2 separate regions of the Homo sapiens genome follow, and region 1 is linked to region 2. Evidence: fine-mapped expression QTL. A gene starts in region 2. The other region holds a variant in brackets. All regions are shown on one strand. Distances are from middle to middle. Region 1 overlaps NSMAF (neutral sphingomyelinase activation associated factor). Region 2 holds the start of SDCBP (syndecan binding protein).

Region 1 (4,397 bases), 91 kb after region 2:
ATAGGTTAATGCACATGTCATCTTACCAGATATTACCAAATACACCTACATGGGGCTGTACCATTTTGCCCTAATAGTTACTTTAAAATTATAAAAACAGGTTTCAGTTTGCTACCTGTAGTTGTATTTTAATAATAAACAAGTACATTTAATTTTAAGCAAGGCACTATGATGATATACGATAGAAGAATGTTGGAAGGAAAAAAGATATGGAATTAGGGAAAAGAATATGAGCAAAATTCCAGAGATAAGAAAGCAAGGTGCTGTGTTCAGGGATGAATAATTGTCTAATTTGATTGAATGCCAAGAAAATAGATATGTCATAAGCTACTAAACAAAAAAACCAAGTGAGTTTTACTTTAGCTTGTATTTAAACAAATACCACATGTTTTTGATCCGTTAAGGATAAACCTGAAGAATAATAAAAATAAGTGGATTTATCTACTGTCAAAGAATTTCCTAAGTTATGGCTTACAGTTGTTAAGTAACCTCCCAAAAGGAAATCATTAGCAGATACCTTTTTGGTGGAACAATTTTCATCTTAGTTAATTCTAAGTTGCCATTTTAAGCAAACAAAAAGCTTCATTACATGCTTCTGTACATAGCTTTCAAAAGGTAAAGTCAAAGAAACAATCTGTTTTTATAGTAGTGAGTAATAGTTATTAAGATACTGAGAAATCAGATCTTGCTTCTAGTTCAAATCGCATGACTCATTTTGAAAGTACTGATTTTATACCACTCTTGTGGTTTATAATCATTACTTTATAACATTGTCACCCGAATAATTGAGAGCAGAGGATACTGCATAACTACAAGAGGGATGCAACAAAAAAATGATGGGATGGACTGGAGTCCTATCAAGCTTAAGATATCTACAACCCCAGAATTGGAACAAATGCTTTTTAGCTTTGAAAAAGGTTTCAAGTTACAATTATAACTTTTAAATACACTCTTCTCATTACTTCCCTAATAAGAGAAAAGATGAAAAAAACTTCATGGGAGATAAAATAATAAACATAGCAAAAACTCTCCAAAAGACTCTCCTAGGTTATAATCCTCAATAAAAGTCTAAATAAAATTTACTTTAATTTTTTTTAAAGCCTAATTTTTTCTTTAGTTAACACCTATATGATCACACATTTAACTTTAAAAGTTCAGATATCAGAAAGGTTTGTTTGTCCAAGGAGATACCGAAGCTTCCTTACCTTTCATGGTGACTGCCCTTGTGCAAAATGTGATTGGCTCTATGCTGTTCAAAGTAGTACTCCTCCAAGTTAAGCAGCAGCAAGGAAAATCTGGATTTGGGGCGAAAAAACAACTTTCAGTTTATTTTTTAGTAAGTATAAGAAGGCAATATATTTAAAACGTCTGATCCCAAAAAGCTTTTCCATTCTTGAATTTAACAAACATTTATGAAGCATGTATATCATGCCAGGCAGTCCTCTCTACCCAGTGGCGGGAAGTACATAGCTGGGCTTGCCTTGTGTCCAAATAACTACTATGTCAAAAATAAAATCACTCACCAGGTGGATGTACTACTCTTTTACAGAAACCCTGAATTTTGTGAAGTTAAACTTATCCTTATCTGAACAAAGCTCAGCGCTTTCCTACTTAGGGAATTTTGAGCATTTGTTTCCCCTGACTGAACAATGCTAGGCTTCCCCACCTCTTCCCTGTCATACCTCCCTGCCCCCAACATCTGCCTCATGGTTATCTGAGTTACTCCCACAAGAACACATGCCTCTAGGGACAGATCTTTTTTTTTTTTTTTGGGACGGAGTTTCACTCTTGTTGCCCAGCCTGGAGTAAAATGGCGCAGTCTCAGCTCAAGTAACCTCCACCTCCCGGGTTCAAGTAATTCTCCTGCCTCAGCCTCCCAAGTAGCTGGGATTACAGGCATGCACCACCATGCCTGGCTAATTTTGTATTTTTAGTAGAGACAGGGTTTCTCCATGTTGGTAAGGCTGGTCTCGAACTCCCAACCTCAC[G/A]TAATCCACCCACCTCGGCCTCCCAAAGTGCTGGGATTACAAGCATGAGCCACCGGCCCAGCCAACAGATCTTTAGATATTCCCTTGTGATAACCAGCCCATGCTGTCTACACAATGGGTGTTTAATAAGTAAAATGAGTAAACCAAACTGAATGGGATTGAAATATAGTTCTTTTTAAAGTTGAAAGTCATTTAAACTTTTAAAAACAAGAGAAGTCATTAAGAAAAATTATTAATTTTGTTGTATGGCTACAGCAACAAATACATGACAAAGAAGTGAAAACAGGCATTTTTTTGTTTTGTTTTGTGATAAGGACCAGGAAACATCAATGAGTTACAGGCAAAAGCTTTCATGAAAAGTGTGGGACTTGAGATGGGCCTTAAGTTCCAGTGTGTTGGAGGAAGAAATTTACATTAAACATGGCAGATTACACATATATGTTTATTTCACTGCCTCTTGAAACACCACTACAATGTGAATAAAACTATTTTTAAATGGTAAAACCCACAGGCTAAAGCAAATTGGAGAGATATTAAAGCAGAGAAGAGACATGAACAAATCTGTGAGAAATGGAAAGCAGACCGGGGGAATAAGCAGTGCTCAGAAATCAGAATTTCAGATGCCTCCAGAGAAGGCACCACTCAGGAGAAAACCAGTTCAAGTCACCGGACTTCCAAAAAGTTCAGAAATTGCAGGATCAAGTGCTAGAGACGATGTGGAGAAATAGGAATGCTTTTACACTGCTGGTGGGAGTGTAAATTAGTTCAACCATTGTGGAAGACAGTGTGGCGATTCCTCAAGGATCTAGAACTAGAAATACCATTTGACCAAGCCATCCCATTACTGGGTATATACCCAAAGGATTATAAATCATTCTGCTACAAAGAAACAGGCACACATATGTTTAATGCGGCACTGTTCACAATAGCAAAGACTTGGAACCAACCCAAATGCCCATCAATGATAGACTGGATAAAGAAAATGTGGCACATATACACCATGGAATACTATGCAGCCGTAAAAAAGGATGAATTCATGTCCTTTGCAGCGACATGGATGAAGCTGGAAACCATCATTCTCAGCAAACACAAGAACAGAAAACCAAGCACCGCCATGTTCTCGCTCATAAGTGGGAGCTGAACAATGAGAACACATGGACACAGGGAGGTGAACATCACACACGGGGACCTGTTGGCGGGGTGGGGAGCTAGAGGAGGGATAGCATTAGGAGAAATACCTAATGTAGATGATGTGTTGATGGGTGCAGCAAACCACCATGGCACGTGTATACCTATGTAACAAACCTGCACGTTCTGCACATGTACTCCAGAACTTAAAGTATAATTAAAAAAAAAAAAAAAAGAAATTGCAGTATCAGGTACCAAGAGGACAGGGTTTGTAAAGCATGAGGGTGGTTAAAAGTGAATGAGGGCAGTAGCCCCCAATTCTTTTCCTGATGGGTTAACCATACTGCACTCTGGCATGTGGTTTTTCTATTTAAAAAAAAGTGGAACAAGAGGCTGCACACTAGGTATCAGGCACAGTGGAGAGCAGGATTGTAGTGTGAAGAGAGGATGACTATGCAAAACATGGAATAGATGAACACTAGTTTGCTGAGAATTATGGTTTCCAGCTTCATCCATATATCACTCCAGGCAGGAGTCTGGTACATTAGTTTTGGAAAAAACTAAACAGCCTCAGAGAAAAAGCCAGGTCTCTACAACATCATCCCACAGTGAAACTCAACTGAAATAGCCCATTCCCAGTGACACAGAATTAAATGCTTCACATTTAAATATGAATGAACAGCCCAAGATCACAGCCTCTAGGATGAAAGAACAAAGCCAAAGCAAGCAGGAAGAATGCAACTTGAAGGACTAAACACAATGCAGAGAACAGAAGAAAAGGTCAAAAGGCTACAATTAATATCCCTACAAAGAAGAAGTTATATTCATAACACCAGAAGAGATGCTCATCAAAAAAAAATAATAGGCCAGGCGCAGCGGCTCACACCTGTAATCCCAGCACTTCGGGAGGCCAAGGCGGGCGGTTTGCCTGAGGTCAGGAGTTCGAGACCAGCCTGGTCAACATGGTGAAACCACCTCTCTACTAAAAGTACAAAAATTAGCCAGGCGTGGTGGCGGGCGCCTATAATCCCAGCTACTCGGGAGGCTGAGGCAGGAGAATTGCTTGAACCTGGGAAGTAGAGGTTGCAGTGAGCCAAGATCGCGCCACTGCACTCCAGCCTAGGCAACAAGAGCGAGACTCCGTCTCAAAATCATCATCATCATCATCATCATCATCTGAACCAAAAGAAAAGTAACTCAAAAAATTAAAAATGATAGCAGAAACCAATTTTACCATCCTAATCTGTAACTTTTATTGACCTGTCCTCCATATCTAAATCC
Region 2 (4,397 bases):
GTTTTATAGTTTAGCTTTTAAATTTAAGTCTATGATCCATTTTTATTTAACTTTTGTGAAGGGTGTTAAGTCTATGTCTAGATTCAATTTTTTTTTTTTACATGTGGAAGTCCAGTTGTTCCAGCACCATTTATTGAGAAGACTGTCCTTTGCTACTTTGCCAAAGATCTGTTAAATGTATCTGTTTGGGTCAAGTTCTGTGCTTTGTATTCTGTTCCATTGATCTATTTGTTTATTCTTTTGTCAATACCATGCTCTCTTGATTACTATAGCTTTATAGTAAATTTTGAAGTTGAGTACTTCTATGGACTGAATGTTTGTGTCCCCCCAAAATTTATATGTTGAGGCTTAATCTCCAATGTGATGGTATTTAGACCCAAGGTTTTTGAGAGATAATTAGCTCATGAGAGTTGAGCCCTCGTAATGAAATGAATGCCCTAATAAGAATAGATAGAAGAGAATGTGCTTTATCTGTCTTGTTTTCTGCCATGTGGGGATACAATGGGAAGAATGCCATCTGCACACTCAAAAGTGAGCCCTCACCAGATTTCCAGATGTGCCAGCAACTTGATTTTGGGCTTCTCAGACTTCAGAGATGTGAGAAATAAATTTCTGTCGTTTAAGCCACCCAATCTATGGCAATTTGTTACAACAGCCTGAACTAAGGTACTGTTAGGCCTCTGACTTTGTTCCTCTCCTTTGGTATTGGTTTGGCTCTTCTGGTCTTTCATTTTTCCATATAAACTTGAGAATCAGTTAATATCCACAAAATAACTTGCTGGGATTTTGATTGATTTGATTTGATTGTATCAAATCTATAGATTAAGTTGGGCAGAACTGACAGTTAAATATCAAGTACTCCTATCCATGAAAATGGAATATCTTTAAATTTATTTAGATCTCCTTTGAACTTTGTAGTTTTTCTCATTGGAAGTTTTTTTTATTTAGAATTTTGTAGTTTTTCTTGTATAAACCTTTTACATATTTTGTTAGATTTATACCTAAATATTTCATTTTATTTTGGTGCTAATGTCAGTGGTTATTGTTTTTAATTTCAAATACCAATTGTTTATTGATGGTATATAAGAAAACAACAGACCATGTATGCAGGTCGACTATTCCTAGTACAGAAATCCAAAATATGAACTACTCTAAAATATGAAACTTTTTGAGTGCTGACATGAGGACCAAGGGAAATGTTCACTGGAACATTTTGAGTTTTGGAGTAGGGATGGTAAACCCATAAGTATATAATGCAAATATTACAAAAGCAAAAAAAAAAAAAATCCAAAATTGGAAACATTTCTGGTCCCAAGCATTTTGGCTTAGAATGAGCCTGTTTTAAACTTGCTCATGCAAACTTGCTATAATTGCTTTTCATTCTGTTTTTTTAGGCGAGGAGTGTCAATTTTTTCCGGATTTTCTATGTTAGATAACCATCTCATCTGAAAGCAAAAAGTTTTATTTCTTCCTTCCCAATCTACCTTGTAATTATTTTTAAATGTCCATTTCATCAGCCTAACTATAACCTTACTGAGAGCAAAGTTTTCATCTTTAGTTGTCACCTCTTTTACACTCAGATTTTTATTAGTTTTGCCATATATTAAATTATTCTGGCACTAATTTAGCTAGAAATAAACTGCTTGTAAATGCTATTTTGTCAAGGACTCTACAGTATTCCGTGGTAACTATGATTACTCTTGGGTAAACTGTGCCTCAGTTTCTTTGTCTGTAATGGGATGTCTTTATAGACTGATGTGAAGACCAAATAAGACTATACATTAAGTTCGTAGAGCTATGGCTGGCACAAAATCAGCCCTCAAGAAATGATCGTTATGTTTTTTTACTGGGAAGCAATTACTTTTGCGCAGCACCACACCTAACTCTCAATAGCGAAGGAATATTAGCTTAGGCGGACAGAGTAATACGCCCCCCACCCCCAACATCCAAATTTCCAACAGAAAAATAAAGCAGGAGTTGAGAAGGGGTCGTGAGAGGAACGTTTCTGAGCCTATAGTGGAGAGGTACAGCAAGCGGAGAGTGAGACTAGGGCAGCAAGTGGTGGAAGTCGAAGGCATCCCAAGAGGGAACAGGGGCTCCCGAGACCTCTTTGAATTGGAGGCGACGAGAACCAAGCGACCGTGAGCTGCGATGCACACAGTAGTGAGTGGGTGGCACGGGGCCCGCGGGCACGAACAGCCGAAGAGCGGAGAAGACTGGGAGCATAACCGCTGGGCAGCGGGCAGCGGACAGCGGGCGGCATGAACCGCCCCACTTTGCCGGATACCTGGAGCTGCAGGAACGACCCACACCCAGGCCTCTTTACCCCTACCGCCCCGTTACCTTGGGGACGGGATCACCCGACCCGGCGCCGTGCGACTGCGCGGGCTGAAGGCGGGGGCGGTGCCATGACGCGCCTCGGGGGCGGTCCTCGGGCGCGCACCGCTCTCTTACACTCGGGCCTCAGAAGTCCGTGCCAGTGACCGGAGGCGGCGGCGGCGAGCGGTTCCTTGTGGGCTAGGTGAGAGGCCAAGGGGGCAAGGAGGGACGCCGGTGCCAGGTCCCGGGCGCGGGGACTTGGGGCAGAGGTGTGACGGTCCCTGGGCCACTTCACAGACTGCATCCTGGTCGCAGCCGTTTTCGCGAGGCAGCGGCGACGCCCTCTCCTCAGGGGGCTCCGCGCCCCTCCCTGCGCCCTGCTGGCTGGGGGGGCAAGTTTGCGGGAGCAGCGCGCTCTTCCTGCCGCGACCCCGCGCGTTTCGGGTTCCTGCCCGGGCTGGGGCTGGGGCTGGGGCTGGGGCTGGGGCTGGCAGAGCCCGGAGGCCCGGCTGGGTGAACGCCTTCAGCCCCCGCCCCAGCTCTGGGGTTCTTCCTGGGACCGTCTCTCGATCCTTGTTTTCTCCTCGATAAGATCTCGACATAAGAAAGAGCCTCTGGCCACGGTTCCTCCCAGTGCTCGGCGTTTCTAGGGCTGTGCTTAATCGCCCTTCTTTTGGGTTATTCGGAAAGTCCTGGATTTGAAAGGAGGAAGGAAGTGTTTGTTTATTGGGCGAAGCCTTGACTTTTTTGGAAGGGGGTGGGGAGAGGTTGTTCGCTTTGAGCTTTTTCCTGGAGAAGTTGGACCTGAGGGAGAAACGTTTCCAGTAGGGTGTGTTTAGAAGGAAATACCCCTGAGATCTGACCCCTGAGATATGATGACTCAGAGCCTTCCTTTCAGGATTTCCTTGTAATAATGGGAAAGGGAAGGCATATGGATGTGGAAAGTTTTCACTTTTACCAAAGTGGTGATTATTGAGTCATGGAGTCTTCTAATGTGTCCATTTTTGAAAGGAGTTTGTAGATTATCTAGTCTGTATAACCACATACACATTTACTGTTATCTTTTCCATTACGTACATTGCTTAGAAAGTACGCTCGGCTTACCAAACTCTTAACATCCGCTTGTTTCAAAAAGAAATCGTTGATTAAAGCAGGAAATTTACCTTGAAAAACAACTGCGGGCCTTTTAAATTAAATTGATTTCTAAATGTGTATGTGATTAGTTAAAACTCAAATTTGTTCAGTCTTTTTATTTTCCTGTTTAAGATTGAGGGATAACGGTAGAAAATACGTCCTTTTGTCTTCTGTGTTACCAACTTAATTCTATAAAATTTGTGCCTTAAATGGTACATAAATATTATAAATCTAGTGGTTTGTGGCACAGAATAAAAAGAAGTAGAATGACTTTTAAAATGGTCAGTAAATAGTCACTCCATTATAAATTAAATTTAACTTTGGAGACATTAACTTTTAGTTTTGGGCATTATAGGAAAAGATGTAAAAAGGGGAAAAAGATGAACAAAAGGGGAAGAATTTGCTAATGGTTGCCGGTTAAATGTACTGTTTAATTAAAGAGTTTCTTAAAATGAGCGTGACAACTATTTTCCCTGTTTTTGCCAGATTTGGGAACTTTTTATAGGTATTAAATGCCAAGAGATTCTAAAAAAGAAAAGCGCCCCCAAATAACTTTGAAATACTTTCTACTTTTAGCAATAGTTACGTTAGCATTTATTAATTTCTTTTCAAGTGCTGCCAACATGTTTTGTAAATGTATTGTTTTTGAGTAGGTAAACAGTCACTTGTCTCAAAATTTAAGCAGCATAAAAAGGTATAAAGTAACAAGTCTTCTGGCAGGCAGGCAACTTTTTTACATTTCTTAGGTATTCTAGGCAAATTTTATATCTACACAGGCAAACATATAAGCTGTATTTGCCTCCTTGCTTTTAACACAAACGTTAACATTTTATATACTGCTTCACATTTTGCTCTTATTTTTCCAGTTAGTGATCATATTTTGGAGCTTTTCTAATATCAGCATATATAGCTTTCAAGTCTTTTGCTGTTACACTCAGTGCTGC

Evidence for each region. PIP is the estimated chance that this variant, and not a neighbour inherited with it, causes the effect.
Region 1: its variant is the best candidate, but not a certain one, in a credible set for the expression of SDCBP in whole blood (INTERVAL, PIP 0.60).

What each region holds. Positions count from the first base shown.
Region 1 is chr8:58,641,779-58,646,175 of GRCh38, forward strand. It overlaps NSMAF (neutral sphingomyelinase activation associated factor), which reads right to left. Exons shown (of 31, transcript NM_003580.4): 2 at 1,206-1,295. Among named protein-coding and RNA genes, the nearest start is that of NSMAF, 16 kb to the right of the region's middle. RefSeq lists an enhancer at 3,666-4,226. The variant G/A (reference allele first, on the strand shown) is at 1,989.
Region 2 is chr8:58,550,783-58,555,179 of GRCh38, forward strand. It overlaps SDCBP (syndecan binding protein), which reads left to right and starts at 2,479. Exons shown (of 9, transcript NM_005625.4): 1 at 2,479-2,521. RefSeq lists enhancers at 2,052-2,231, 2,138-2,855 and a silencer at 2,332-2,861.